Linked DNA regions of Homo sapiens. The protein of the gene in region 1 purifies or fractionates together with the protein of each later gene. This does not show direct contact. Each region holds a gene or a part of one and is shown on either strand. Other genes may lie near its edges.

Region 1 (3,500 bases):
AGTAGCCTCGGGTCTGGGCCAGCTCCATGGCACAGCTTGTGAGGCTCCTAGAGACCTGCTGCTACTTCTCTCCCTTCAGATCCTTCTCTCGTTTCCCATATCTGAGCCCTCCATTCCAGTCGCCACGCACCCCTGCATTCGGCCCTGGCCGGCTGTCTCCCGTCGGCCTCTTGCCCTGGTGCCTGCTGGCTTCTTGGTACCTGAGCTGCCTTCCTCCTCCAGCCTCACCCAGCAACAATGTGGCGTCTGTGAGTGCTTCCTTGAGCCTGGGCCTCTCCTCCCTCCCAGGCTGACTTAGGTGCCCCTGTAGGCTTCCTATAGGCTGTTGTTTAATTGTTGTGTTTATCTGTGTCCCCAGTACACGGTGTGTCTTTGGCCTAAATGGAGCCTGGCACGCGGCAATCACGCAGCATGTGCTTGTGGAATGAGTGCGTGAGTCAGTGGGACTCCTGACTGAGGTGTCCTGCACTCTGGATGGCTGTCGGGGATGCTGGAGAAGGAATTTTTGCGTTTGATGGGGCTTGAATCAGATCAGTGGTTTTTTACCCATAATTTTATTATTGTGTTAAAGTCCATAAAACATAAAATTTGCCATCTTAACCATGTTGAAGTGTACACTTCAGTGCTGGTAAATTCATTCATCTGCAGCCATCACCACCTTCCATCTCCAGGACTCTTCTCCTTGCAAAACAGACTCTGTCCCCATGAAACACTAACTTCCTCTTCTCCCGTACCCCAGCCCCTGGCACCCTCCATTCTACTTTCTGTCTCTATGAATCTGACTACTCTAGGGACCTCGGATAAGTGGGGTCATAGAGTGTTTGTCATTTTTTTGACTGGCTTATTTCACTTAATATAATGTTCTCAAGGTTTATCCATGTTGTGGCATGTATCAGAATTTCATCGCTTTTTAGGGCTGAATAATATTCCATTGTAATGGATATACCATATTTTGTTTATCCACTCAACTGTCAATGGTACAGTTTGCTCCCACATTTTAGCTATTATGAATAATACTGCTATGAACATGGGTATACAAATATCTCTTCAAGACCCCGTTTTCTATTTTTTTGGATAAATACCCAGAAGGGGAATTATTGGGTCATATGGTAAATCTGTGCCTAATTTTTTGAGGAGCTGTTATACTATTTTCCATAATGGCTGCATCATTTTACATTTCCACCAACAGTGCATGAGAGCTTCAATTTCTCCTTATCCTTGCCAATGCTTGTGGTTTTGTGTGTTTTTTTTTAGGAGCAGCCATCCTAATGGGTGTGAGGTGGTTAGATAAAATCTTAAGGCACTTATGGCTGGGATTCTATGATCCCATTAGAAGTTTAAGGTATTTGTAGTAGAGTTGCATGGGTCAGCTTTATTAACCTTGAACACACACATTCACATTTGACAGCTTGGGTAGACTTGAACCAGGATTCATTTAGCTTGGGTGGACGCTACTGTTAGTGACCAAAGTGCTGAAAGTAATAGTTATCAAGATATGCTGTGCTTTGTATGTGATAATAACATGTTCAAAAAATATTTTATCCTTTGAATTTCATTGTAGACAGAGAATCTGTCTCATGAGCTATCTTTGAATGGCGATGTTCTATTTGTTACGTGTGCGGATCTCATTTCACCTAACACCTCATTTCCTTCCATTTGGACGACAAGCTCTCTAGTGACGATGCGGTGCGGAGGGTTTTAGCTGGAGAGAAGGGAGAAGTGAAAGGCCGGGCCTCACTGACCTCAAGATCTCAGGAATTGGATAATAAGAATGTGCGAGAAGAAGAGTCCAGAGTTCACAAAAATACAGAGGTGAATTCCAAGTCGCACATCTTTGAAAATGAAATAGTGAGTCTTTTTGTAGTTTAGGTAAAAATATTCATAAATGATTTTATTTTTATTTCGTAGGATAGAGGAGACGCTGAAATAAAAGAGAGAAGTACAAGCAGAGATCGAAAACAGAAGGAAGAATTGAAAGAAGACCGCAAGCCAAGAGAAAAGGACAAGGACAAGGAGAAGGCCAAGGAGAATGGCGGAAACAGACACAGAGAAGGGGAGAGAGAGAGAGCCAAAGCCCGGGCCAGGCCAGACAACGAGCGACAGAAAGACAGAGGCAACAGGGAGCGGGACAGAGACTCCGAGCGCAAGAAGGAGACAGAGAGAAAGAGTGAGGGGGGGAAAGAGAAGGAGAGACTGAGAGACAGGGACCGAGAGCGCGACCGGGACAAAGGGAAGGACAGGGACAGACGGAGAGTGAAAAACGGGGAGCACTCCTGGGACCTGGACAGGGAGAAGAACAGAGAGCATGACAAACCTGAGAAAAAGGTAAAGTCTTGCTGAGAACCTCGCCTTTTGCTTAGCAAGAGTTTGTGGTGGTCTCAAACATGATTTTTACCTTTCTTACAATATGACTAGGAAACTGGTTTTCTTTTATGCCTATTTAAAATGATGACAATCTTGGATTCTCAATAGAAACCCAAAGAGATACTTATTTCTTGTCAGTTGTGTTTTGGGTTTTTTTGTTCATCCCCTAATAGAAGTTTATTGTTCAGCCAATCATTTATTAAGGCATTATTCAGTGAGTTTTTAACCATTTCCTACTTCATGTCCAGGGAGAATTCTGCTGGATTATAAGCTCCCTAAGAGCAAAAGCTAGAGATTTCACTCATGTTCACTGTTGGATGCCCAGTCTGATAGAGTGTCTGACACATAGCAGCTTTGCAGTAAATATTTGGTGGTGGAATGGATTGAGCATCCAGGCAAGGGGTGATGGGCTTTTCAGATCATGAAACACTGGATGGAATTGATCAATTGATGGTGGTTTCTGAGGTCTCCCTTTATGGAATTTTGATCTGGGAGTGGTAGAAGATAATTTGAAGGGGGATGTCAGGAAAATATTAAATGCTTGCTCTTTTTAGGGTTTAATGATTCCCCACCAGGCATGTAGAGAAATCAACGTTTTTCAGAGTTTGAGCTGATTTGCCAAGTTGCTCTTGTCCTTGTCTTGCAGGTGTTTTAAGATGTGTTGCTTCTCCCGTGCGTGTCGTTTGTGTCATTTGTGTCACTCTCAGTATTGCTCTGAAGGCTTTGGAGCAGCCTCCACCTTAGCATTGCAAGCGGTGTTTATGCGCAGTCTGAGTTGTGCATGTGGTGTCTTTAGGAGCATGGACATTGCTCAGTTATTAAGGATTAGGGCTGCTTTCAAGGGCTTTTAGGCATCAGCAGATAAGTACAATAAGACCTGAGTTTACTGTAATTATTGTTTAATTAAATTTTCAGGTAAATTTAGGGTTTGCCAGGAAGTCCTGTTGGTTTCAAACTGTTTTCTCAATGTGTGAATTCTTTCTGGACCCACCATGTGTGTTGGGGACGTTTTCCCAGACACCCAGACACGCATTCTTTGGGGGATGTCAAATTGTAAAGCATCCCGCGAAGATGTTGGAAATCATCTTGTCTCCAGCTGCTAGGAAGGAGGACACTGAGGTCGGGAAGGGATCCAG
Region 2 (3,500 bases), on another chromosome or scaffold:
CTGGGTGTGCCTGTGGTCCCAGCTACCCAAGAGGCTGAAGTGGGAGGCTCCCTTAAGCCTTGAGAAGTCGAGGCTGCAGTGAGCTGTGATCACGCCACTGCACTACAGTCTGGGTGACAGAGTGACAGTGTCTCAAAAAAAAAAATATATATATATATATATATATACACACACACATATAAAAGAAATTAATTTTGAGATAGCTAAATTAAATGCCATATTAAGAGCAGGAGGCTATTCAGCAATGCTGCTGAGAAGAAGACAGAAGGACGTGGGTCCTTCTAATGTAACTATGTGTGTCGGGTTAGTGATATGCACCTCGAAGGAGAAATTAAGACAGCACATTGCCATGTTAGTTCACACTTGCCAGTATTTCAGCATTTGTCAGGCAATGGAATGTTCAAGCGAATTTTCCACGAGGCTGACTTTAAAACATTTCATTTTAACCATTATGATGAGAAGTCTTTCTAGAACACTCCATCATTTGATGGCCCATGACTGAACCTCTCTTGGATGTTTTCAGGGTCATTATTACGGGTGTTAATGTTTGGTCTTCTGTTTTAATATGTAGGCTCCCGTAGGGCCATTGAAATGTGAAGAATCCTTCGTCTATGAAGTGTCCCCACATCAAAACTGCATTGTGAGTGTTTATATTTTTGGCCTCTCTTACTGTGGCCTTAACTTGCAGGTCTGTCTGGAGCCCTGTTCTCTCCTTTCCTAGTTTGCAGATGTGGCTGGGAAACTTGTTAGCATCAAATTGTTAGAATGAGATGGATTTCATATGGGGCCAGTAGTCTTCCATGAGCAAAGCTCAGGGTGAGGGCTTCAGGCCCATATTTTGACTATTCCGAGGTGCCCTTTCGCTTTTTGTTCTTTTTCTTTATGTTCAAGGAGTTATGTTTCCTGATGAATGAAGTATCAGTATATCATAGTAGAGAACGATTAGACCAGGTTCTGGAACACAGGAAACCTCAAGAAACAGTGAGTGTTGAGAATGCCAGAGCTAAGAACTCAGACATTTGTGAGGGAATACAGGTCTTTCTGTTCAGAATGTTCATGTACTTAAGAATCTTCTCGCCAGGCGCGGTGGCTCACGCCTGTAATCCCAGCACTTTGGCAGGCTGAGGCGGGTGGATCACCTGAGGTTAGGAGTTTGAGACCAGCCTGACCAACATGGAGAAACCCTGTCTCTACGAAAAATACAAAACTAGCCGGGCGTGGTGGCGCATGCCTGTAATCCCAGCTACTTAGGAGGCTGAGGCAGGAGAATCGCTTGAATCTGGGAGGTGGAGGTTGTGGTGTGCCGAGATGGCGCCACTGCACTCCAGCCTGGCAACAAGAGCGAAAACTCCGTCTCACACACACACACAAAAAAAAGGGAAACAAAGGTAAACTGGGAAGGAACCGTGTGTAATCTTCCGTACCTTGCATTTTCCACTTATATTCTGGGGTTTGTTTCCTGTCGCCACAGAGCTCTGGTATTCCATAGCGAGGATGTTTTGTAATTTATGTAACCCTCTCATGGCGGACATTTAGGTTGTTGCTGAGTTTCCCCAAGATAACAGACGGCATTGCCAACAGTTTCTCACACCTTCACCAGTGCTAGAATGACAGTATTTAAAACATCTGTCAATCTGGTAGTGAAAATGCTATCTCGTTTTAAAGTGCATTTCCTTAGTTATGAGTGTGGTAAAACATCTTTTACTAGGACGTAAAGCCATTGATGTTTCTTGTTTTTGTGAATGGCCATTTTTCTCTTGAACCAATGGCCTTTTTCTTTTTTTTTTTTTTTTTTTTGAGATGGAGTTTTGCACTTGGTGCCCAGGCTGGAGTGCAGTGGCGTGATCTTGGCTCACCGTAACCTCTGCGCTAGCCCTTTTAAATAACTTTTAAAAATTGAGACAGTGTCGGGCCAGGCACGGTGGCTCACGCCTGTAATCCCAGCACTGTGGGAGGCCGAGGCGGGCGGATCATGAGGTCAGGAGATCGAGACCATCCTGGCTAACACGGTGAAACCCCATCTCTACTAAAAATACAAAAAATTATCTGGGCATGGTGGCGGGCGCCTGTAGTCCCAGCTACTTGGGAAGCTGAGGCAGGAGAATGCCGTGAACCCAGGAAGCGGAGCTTGCAGTGAGCCGCGATCGCACCACTGCACTCCAGCCTCGGCAACAGAGCAAAACTCCATCTCAAAAAAAAAAAAAAAATTGAGACAGAGTCTGACTCTGTTGCCCAGGCTGGAGTGCAGTGGCGCCATCTCACCTTACTGTAACCTCCGCCTCCCGAGGTTAAGCAGTCCTCTCGCCTCAGCCTCACAAGTAGCCGGGATTACAGGCACGCGCCACCATGCCCGGCTCATTTATTTTTATTTATTTATTTATTTATTTTGAGATGGAGTCTCGCTCCGTCGCCCAGGCTGGAGTGCAGTGGTACAATCTTGGCTCACTGCAACCTCCGTCTCCCAGGTTGAAGCATTTCTCCTGCCTCAGCCTCCCTAGTAGCTGGGACTACAGGCACCCGTCACCACGCCCGGCTAATTTTTGTATTTTTAGTAGAGATGGAATTTCACCATGTTGATCAGGCTGGTCTTGAACTCCTGACCTCATGATCCATCCGCCTCAGCCTCCCAAAGTGTTGGCATTACAGGTGTGAGCCACTGCTCCTGGCTTTCTGGCTAATTTTTGTTTTTTTTTGTATTTTTAGTAGAGACAGGGTTTTGCCATGTTGGCCAGGCTAGTCTCAAACTCTTGACCTCGGGATCTGCCCGCCCCCACCTCCCAAAGTGCTGTGATTACAGGCGTGAGCCACGGCACTAAATTTTATTTTAGAGGCAGGGTCTTGCTTTGTCATCCGGGCTGGAGTGCAGTTGTGCGATCCTGGCTCGCTGCAGGCCTGACCTCCTGGACTCAAGTGATACTCCTGCCTCATCCTCCCAAGTGGCTGTGACCTCTTCCTCCCAAGGAGCATGTGCCACCATGCCTGGCTAATTAAAAAACATTTTTTTTAGAGATGGGGTCCCACTATATTGCCCCGGCTTGTCTTGAACTCCTGGTCTCAAGTGATCCTCCTACTTCTGCCTGCCAAAGTACTGGGATTACACGCAGGAGCCGTCGTGCCTGGCCCCCAGTTTTTTTCTTAATGTGTTTGTCTTTTTTTTTTTTTTTTTTGAGTTAGAGTCTCGCTCTGTCTGTTGCCCAGGCTGGAGTGCAGTGGCACGATCTTGGCTCACTGCAGCCTTCGCTTCCCGAGTGCAAGCAAGTCTCCTGCCTCAGCCTCTGGAGTAGCTGGGATTACAGATGCCCGCTGCGACTCCCAGCTAATTTTTGTATTTTTGGTAGAGACGGGGTTTCACCATGTTGGCCAGGCTGGTCTCGAACTCCTGACCTCAGGCGATCCACCCACCTCAGCCTCCCAAAGTGCTGGGATTACAGGCATGAGCCACCTCACCCGGGTGTTTGTCTTTTGACTTAAATTTTTATGTGGTCCTTATATTTATGGCC
Region 3 (3,500 bases), about 210 Mb from region 1:
CCTATAGTCCCAGCTACTCGGGAGGCTGAGGCAGGAGAATGGCATGAACCTGGGAGGCAGAGCTTGCAGTGAGCCGAGATCATGCTACTGCACTCCAGCCTTGGGCAACAGAGCAAGACTCTGTCTCAAAAATAAATAAATAAAATTAAAAAAATAAAAATAAATAAAAATAAAAATCTGCCACTGTCCCCCAGCCCTTGCACACACACACATACCCATTTCTACACACAAAGCCTGTTTCTCCTCCCTTTGGCCCCACTTCCAGTGACTTTCTCTTCTAGCTATGCCCTTCTCAGATCCCCTTCTTCCCTCTACCTCTAGAACTTCAATATCTACAAAAGGATCTTCACTGACATGGTGAGCTCTCCTGGAACCAACTGTGCCGAGGCCTATCATAGCTGGGCTGATCTTCGAGATGTCCTCTTCAACCTGGTGAGGAAGCGAAAGGGCTGCTCCGTCTGTCCTTGTCCTCATCTCTTCTTTGATGCACATAAACCTTTATTCTCAGATGTATTTTACCTTCCTCTGCCAGGTGGCTATCAGAGACCACTCTATGGCCCTGGCACTCCTCTGACCCCTGAGCCAGGCTGTGCTGTCTCCCTCCTCTAGTGTGAAAACCTGGTGAAGTCCAGTGAGGCAAACTCTCCAGCCCATGAGGAGTTCAAGACGATGCTGCTGATCGCTCATTACTATGCCACGCGCTCTGCAGCCCAGAGTGTCAAACAGCTGGTGAGATGTAGGGGGTCGAAGGAACACTCAGTCAGAAGGGCTCATCTGCAAATGTATAAAGCTGAATTGATTCACGTTCTGGATTCTTCAGCTTGGGCTCTTGAATCTCCCCACCTGTCTTTCAGCTTCTCTTCTGTCTAAACAAATCTTTAGCCCTTGCTGAGGTTTTCTTCTTCCGACCTTTTTAGGGCTCTGTGCCCACACAGCCTCAGCCTCATTATGTTTAAACATCCAAATCCCATGATTTCTTTATTCACCTCTTATAATGTACACATATTCTGGGCTTATTTTTGACTGTTCACTGTATATTTATTTCATGTACTTGGATGATAGAATTCTAGAAGTGGAAAGAACCTTAGAAACAATCTAGGTGGGTGGGTGTGGTGGCTCACCCCTGTAATCCCAGCACTTTGGGAGGCCGAGGCGGGTGGATCACTTGAGGCCAGGAGTTCGAGACCAGCCTGGCCAACGTGGTGAAACCCCATCTCTACTAAAAACATAAAAATTAGCCAGGTTGGCCGGGCGCGGTGGCTCACGCCTGTAATCCCAGCACTTTGGGAGGCCGAGGCGGGTGGATCATGAGGTCAGGAGATCGAGACCATCCTGGCTAACAAGGTGAAACCCCGTCTCTACTAAAAATACAAAAAATTAGCCAGGCACGGTGGCGGGCGCCTGTAGTCCCAGCTACTCGGGAGGCTGAGGCAGGAGAATGGCGTGAACCCGGGAAGCGGAGCTTGCAGTGAGCCGAGATTGCGCCACTGCAGTCCGCAGTCTGGCCTGGGCGACAGAGCGAGACTCCGTCTCAAAAAAAAAAAAAAAAAAAAAAAAAAAAAATTAGCCAGGCATGGTAATGTGCGCTTGTAGTCCTAGCTACTCAGGAGGCTGAGGCACGAGAATTACTTGAATCCGGGAGGCAGAGGTTGCAGTGAGCTGAGATGGCACCACTGCACTCCAGCCTGGGCGAAAGAATTGAACCTAGGCCCAGGTGTCTTGTTCAGAGAAAAAGAAAAAAAAAACTAAGACCCAGAACAGCTTGAGAATCCAGAGCAGTTTAATAATAATTGTTGTTTTTTAGTTCTGTGGCTGCCTTACAGGATCATTGGTCTGGTAGCTCAGTCACTTTAGTGCCATATTCATAATGCTTTGACTTTAATCCCAGGAAACCGTGGCTGCCAGGCTTTCTGTTTCACTCTTGCGTCACACCCAGCTACTACCTGTAGACAAAGCCTTCTATGAAGCAGGCATTGCTGCCAAGGTGAGCTGGGACAAGGAAGGGTGGGGCAGATAGGAGGAAGTTAAAGGTTGGAAAATAGAATATCCCTTCTGCTCTGGTAGAGGAAAGCTGAGTGTAGGGCTGATGTTACGGAGGATGTAGTCCTCCTATGTCTTCCTGGATTTTTCTCCCTGGATCCCAGAGAAATAGCATTCAAGCCCAGCTTGCTCACTCCCATTTGCATCTGGATCCCAGAGAAGTAGCATTCAAACCCAGCTTGTTCACTCCCATTTGCAACTCTTCTTTGCTGCAGGCAGTTGGCTGGGATAACATGGCATTCATCTTCCTCAATCGCTTTTTGGACCTGACCGATGTGAGTAGGGAAGCTGTGCCCCGAGGGTGGAGGTTTTTGCCAGTCGCGAGCTGTGCCTAGTTCATGGTTGCCCACTCTACTGCAGGCAATCGAGGAAGGGACTCTAGATGGCCTTGACCACTCTGATTTTCAGGATACAGACATTCCCTTTGAGGTGCCACTCCCAGCTAAGCAGCATGTACCGGTAAGGGCACAGGGTTGGAAAACCGGAAGGCCTCACCAGTGTGAGTGCCTTGAGGAGGGAGAATATCTTTGTGCTGCCATCTTTGGAAGGACCTCAGCCCTCACTGTTTTTTCAGTGAAAGTAGAAGCAAAATAGAAAGAAAAGGCTGTGACTGCATCCCCCAATCCAAGGAGGATTCGTGGCTAAAAGCTGGTATACAGGATGAGGGCTTAGCAAACCCCCTCCTCACCCATCCACCCCAACTTGTCCTGCCCTGCCCTGTGTGAAGCTACCACTCCCTTCTTGTCCTTTCCAGGAGGCTGAGAGAGAAGAGGTTCGAGACTGGGTGCTTACAGTCTCCATGGACCAGCGGCTGGAGCAGGTTCTGCCTCGGGATGAGCGTGGCGCCTACGAGGCCTCCCTAGTGGCAGCGAGCACTGGTGTTCGAGCCCTGCCCTGCCTTATTACAGGTATAGAAGCCTACAGCACCCCAGATCCTGTGGTGGGTAGAAAGCAGCAGGATCAATAAACTTAATTTTACTAGGATTCAGTAAAGGGTACAAAAGACAGGACTGTGCTTTCTACCCCCCAGGCTGCTCCTCATTTTTCCCTCCTCAATCTCTCTCAAACCCCAGTTCATCATTTTTTCTTCCTCCACAGGATACCCCATTCTGAGGAACAAAATTGAATTTAAGCGGCCAGGGAAGGCTGCTAACAAGGACAACTGGAATAAATTCCTTATGGCCATCAAGGTTAGAGAGGAGGACTTGGAGAATGAAGGCAGAGAGGGCAGCACTAAAAAAAGAAAAAAAAACAAGTCTGGGTGCAGTGGCTCATACCTTTAATCCCAGCACTTTGGGAGGCCAAGGTGGGCGGATCACCTGAGGTCAGGAGTTTGAGACCAGCCTGGCCAACATGGTTAAAACCTCGTCTCTACTAAAAATACAAAAGTTAGCCGGGTCTGGTGGCGTGCACCTGTAATCCCAGCTACTCAGGAGGCTGAGGCAGGAGAATCGCTTAAA
Region 4 (3,500 bases), on another chromosome or scaffold:
AAGTGTCCAGGTGACAATCTTAACTTCCAGTTTAATGGAATCATTGTTGTGTCTCCTGGTGGCAGCATTCTTCCCTCTGGAATTAAGACCTCTAGGCCAGCAGAACATAATGTTGCAGGAGAGGAAGCAAAAATTTTGCTAGTGGATCACTAGGGGTGATGGTGAGTGGTGCCACTTCCAGTTCCACCCCTCGATTCCTGGACCTGTGAATCCTGGCTATGGGAGAAACAGTACCTTATATTGGACGCTGATTCAGAGGATACACGGCCTTCTGGAGGACTTTCCCACAGTTCTGCAAAGTATTGTCACCTAGTTGGCGTTGTAATTGTGACTTCAATAGGCCATTCCACTGTTCTGTCAATCCAGCTGCTTTAGGATGATGGAGAGCATGGTAAGACCAGTGAATTCCATGAGCATGAGCCTACTGCCGCACTTCTTTAGCTGTAAAGTGAGTGCCTTGGTCAGAGGCAATGCTGCGTGGCATACCATGATGGTGGATAAGGCATTCCATGAGTCAGCTGGGTGCGGTGGCTCACGCCTGTAATCCCAGCACTTTGGGAGGCCGAGGCAGGCAGATCACTTGAAGTCAGGAGTTCAAGACCAGCCTGGCCAACATGGTGAAACCCTGTCTCTACTGAAAATACAAAAATTAGCTGGGTGTGGTGGCGGGTGCCTGTAATCCTAGCTACTTGGGAGGCGGAGGCAGGAGAATCACTTGAACCCGGGAGGCGGATGTTGCAATGAGCCAAGATTGTGCCACTGCACTCCAGCCTGGGCAACAGAGTGAGACCCCTTCTCAAAACAACAACAACAACAACAACAACAAACCAAAAAAACATTCCACAAATGGTAGTCTTGGTAGAAGCATTGCATACAGGATAGGCGAACCCATATCCAGAGTAAGTGTCTATTTGAGTGAGGACAATCCTCTGCCCTTTCCATGATGGAAGAGGTCCAATATAATCAATCCGCCACCAGGTAGCTGGCTGATCACCCAAGGAATGGTGACATACTGAGGGCTTGGTGTCGGTCTCTGCTGCTGGCAAATTAGGCACTCAGCAGTGGCCGTAGCCAGGTCAGCCTTGGTGAGTGGAAGTCCATGTTGCTGAGCCCAAGCATTACTTCCATCCCTGCCACCATGGCCACTTTGTTGGCCATGGGCGATGGCAGGGGAAAGAGGCTGAGTGGTGTCCACAAAATGGGTCATCCTATCCACTAGATTATTAAACCCCTCCTCCGCTGAGGTCACTTGTTGGTGAGCACTCACATGGGATACAAATATCTTGTCTTTGACCACTCAGAGAGGTCCATCCACATACCTCTTCCCCAAATTTGTCACCAAGTTTCCAATCATGCTCCTTCCAAGTCCCTGACCAGCCAAACCATTGGCTACAGCCCATGAATGAGTATATAATCACACATCTGGCCATTTCTCCTTCCATTCAAAGTGCACAACCAGGTGCACTGCTCGAAGTTCTGCCCACTGGGAAGATTTCCCTTCATTGTTGTCCTTCAGGGATGTCCTAGAAAGGGGTTGTAGTGCTGCAGCTCTCCACTTTCGGGTGTTGTCTGCATATGATGCAGAACCGTCTGTGAAGCAGGCCCTAATCTTCTTTTCCTCTGTCAGCTGATCATAGGGAACTCCCCATGAGGCCATCAGTGCAGGCTGGGAGAGAGAAGGCAGGGTGGCAGGAGTGGAGGCCATGGGCATTTGAGCCACTTCCTCATGTAATTTACTTGTGCCTTCAGGACGTGCTTGAGCCCGATCACGTATATACCACTTCCATTTGATGATGGAATGCTGCTGTGCACAATCCACTGTATGGCTAGATGGGTCTGAAAGCACCCAGCTCATGATAGGCAGGGCAGTTCAGGTCGCATGGTGACTTGATGACCCATAGTCAAACATTCAATTTCCACTAAAGCCCAGTAACAGGCCAAGAGCTGACTCTCAAAAGGAGAGTAGTTAGCTGTAATCAGCACTTTGGGAGGCTGAGGTGGGCGGATCACAAGGTCAAGAGATCGAGACCATCCTGGCCAACATGGTGAAACCCCATCTTTACTAAAAATACAAAAATTAGCTGGATGTGGTGGCACGCACCTGTATTCCCAGCTACTTGGGAGGCTGAGGCAGGAGAATCGCTTGAACCTGGGAGGTGGAGGTTGCATTGAGCCGAGATCGCACCACTGCACTCCAGTTTGGCAACAGAGTGACACTGCGTCTCAAAAAAAAAAAAAAAGGAGAGTAGTTATCTGTAGAAGATGGCAGGGCCTTGCTCCAAAATCCTAGAAGTCTCCATTGCGATTCACCTATGGGAGCCTGCCAAAGACTCCAAACAACATCCCCATCTGCCACTGACACATTAAGCACCATTGGATCTGCTGGGTCATATGGCCCAGGTGGCAGAGCAGCTTGCACAGCAGCCTGGACCTGTTGCAGAGCCTTCTCCTGTTCTGGACCCCACTCAAAACTGGCAGCCTTTCAGGTCACTCAGTAAATGGGCCGGAGTAATACACCCAAATGAGGAACGTGTTGCTTCCAAAATCCAAATATGCCCACTAGGCATTGTGCCTCTTTCTTGGTTGTGGGAGAGACCAAACACAACAACTTATCCTTTAACTTAAAGGGAATATCTCAACAGGTCCCACAACACTAGATCCCTAGAAATTTTACTGAGACAGAAGGTCCCTGAATTTTAGTCGGATTTATTTCTCATCCTCTGGCATGCAAATGTCACACCAATAAGTCCAGTGTGTTTGCTATTTCTTGATCACTGGATCCAGTCAGCATAATGTCATCAATGTAATGGACCAGTGTGATATCTTGCGGAAGCGAAAAGCGATCAAGATCTCTCCAAATAAGATTATGACACAAAGCCGGAGAGTTGATATACCCCTGAGGTAGGACAGTAAAGGTATATTGCTGGCCTTGCCAGCTGAAGGCAGATTGCTTCTGATGGGCCTTATGGACAGGAATAGAGAAAAAGGCATTTGCAGAGTCAGTGGCTGCATAGCAGGTACCAGGAGATGTGTTAATTTGCTCAAGCAATGAAACCACATCTGGTAACAGCAGCAGCAATTGGAGTCACCACTTGGTTAAGCTTATGATAATCCACTATCATTCTCCAGGATCCATCTGTCTTCTGCACAGGCCAAATGAGAGAGTTAATGGGGATGTGGTGGGAATCACCACTTCTGCATCTTTCAAGTCCTTGATGGTGGCACTGATCTCTGCATACCTTCCAGGGATGTGATATTGTTTTTGATTTACTATTTTTTTAGGTAGAGGCAACTCTAAGGGCTTCTATTTGGCCTTTCCCACCATGATAGCCCTCAACCTAGCAGTCAGGGAGCCAGTGTGGGGGTTTTGCCAGCTGCTAAGTATGTCTATGCCAATTATGCATTCTGGCACTGGGGTAATGACCACAGGATGAGTCCAGGGACCCACTGGGCCCACTGTAAGTCAGACCTAAGCTAAAACTTCATTAATTACCTGACTT

What was found. The genes of interacting proteins can lie anywhere in the genome.
Region 2: the proteins of TRAF3IP1 (region 1) and TRAP1 purify together in Homo sapiens (affinity purification with mass spectrometry; one study listed by BioGRID and IntAct). This does not show direct contact.
Region 3: the proteins of TRAF3IP1 (region 1) and IFT172 purify together in Homo sapiens (affinity purification with mass spectrometry; one large-scale study listed by BioGRID and IntAct). This does not show direct contact.
Region 4: the proteins of TRAF3IP1 (region 1) and MAP4 purify together in Homo sapiens (affinity purification with mass spectrometry; one study listed by BioGRID and IntAct). This does not show direct contact.

The regions. Positions count from the first base shown.
Region 1 is NC_000002.12:238,327,018-238,330,517, forward strand, and holds part of TRAF3IP1 (TRAF3-interacting protein 1), read left to right. Parts: intron 1-1,668; coding exon 1,669-1,812; intron 1,813-1,908; coding exon 1,909-2,325; intron 2,326-3,500.
Region 2 is NC_000016.10:3,707,525-3,711,024, reverse strand, and holds part of TRAP1 (heat shock protein 75 kDa, mitochondrial isoform 1 precursor), read left to right. Parts: intron 1-622; exon of another isoform or gene 623-640; intron 641-3,500.
Region 3 is NC_000002.12:27,444,744-27,448,243, reverse strand, and holds part of IFT172 (intraflagellar transport protein 172 homolog), read left to right. Parts: intron 1-321; coding exon 322-432; intron 433-609; coding exon 610-729; intron 730-1,762; exon of another isoform or gene 1,763-1,888; coding exon 1,889-1,984; intron 1,985-2,255; coding exon 2,256-2,315; intron 2,316-2,400; coding exon 2,401-2,499; intron 2,500-2,794; coding exon 2,795-2,948; intron 2,949-3,138; coding exon 3,139-3,230; intron 3,231-3,500. UniProt on the Homo sapiens protein: Required for the maintenance and formation of cilia. Plays an indirect role in hedgehog (Hh) signaling, cilia being required for all activity of the hedgehog pathway.
Region 4 is NC_000003.12:48,006,417-48,009,916, reverse strand, and holds part of MAP4 (microtubule-associated protein 4), read left to right. Parts: intron 1-3,500. UniProt on the Homo sapiens protein: Non-neuronal microtubule-associated protein. Promotes microtubule assembly.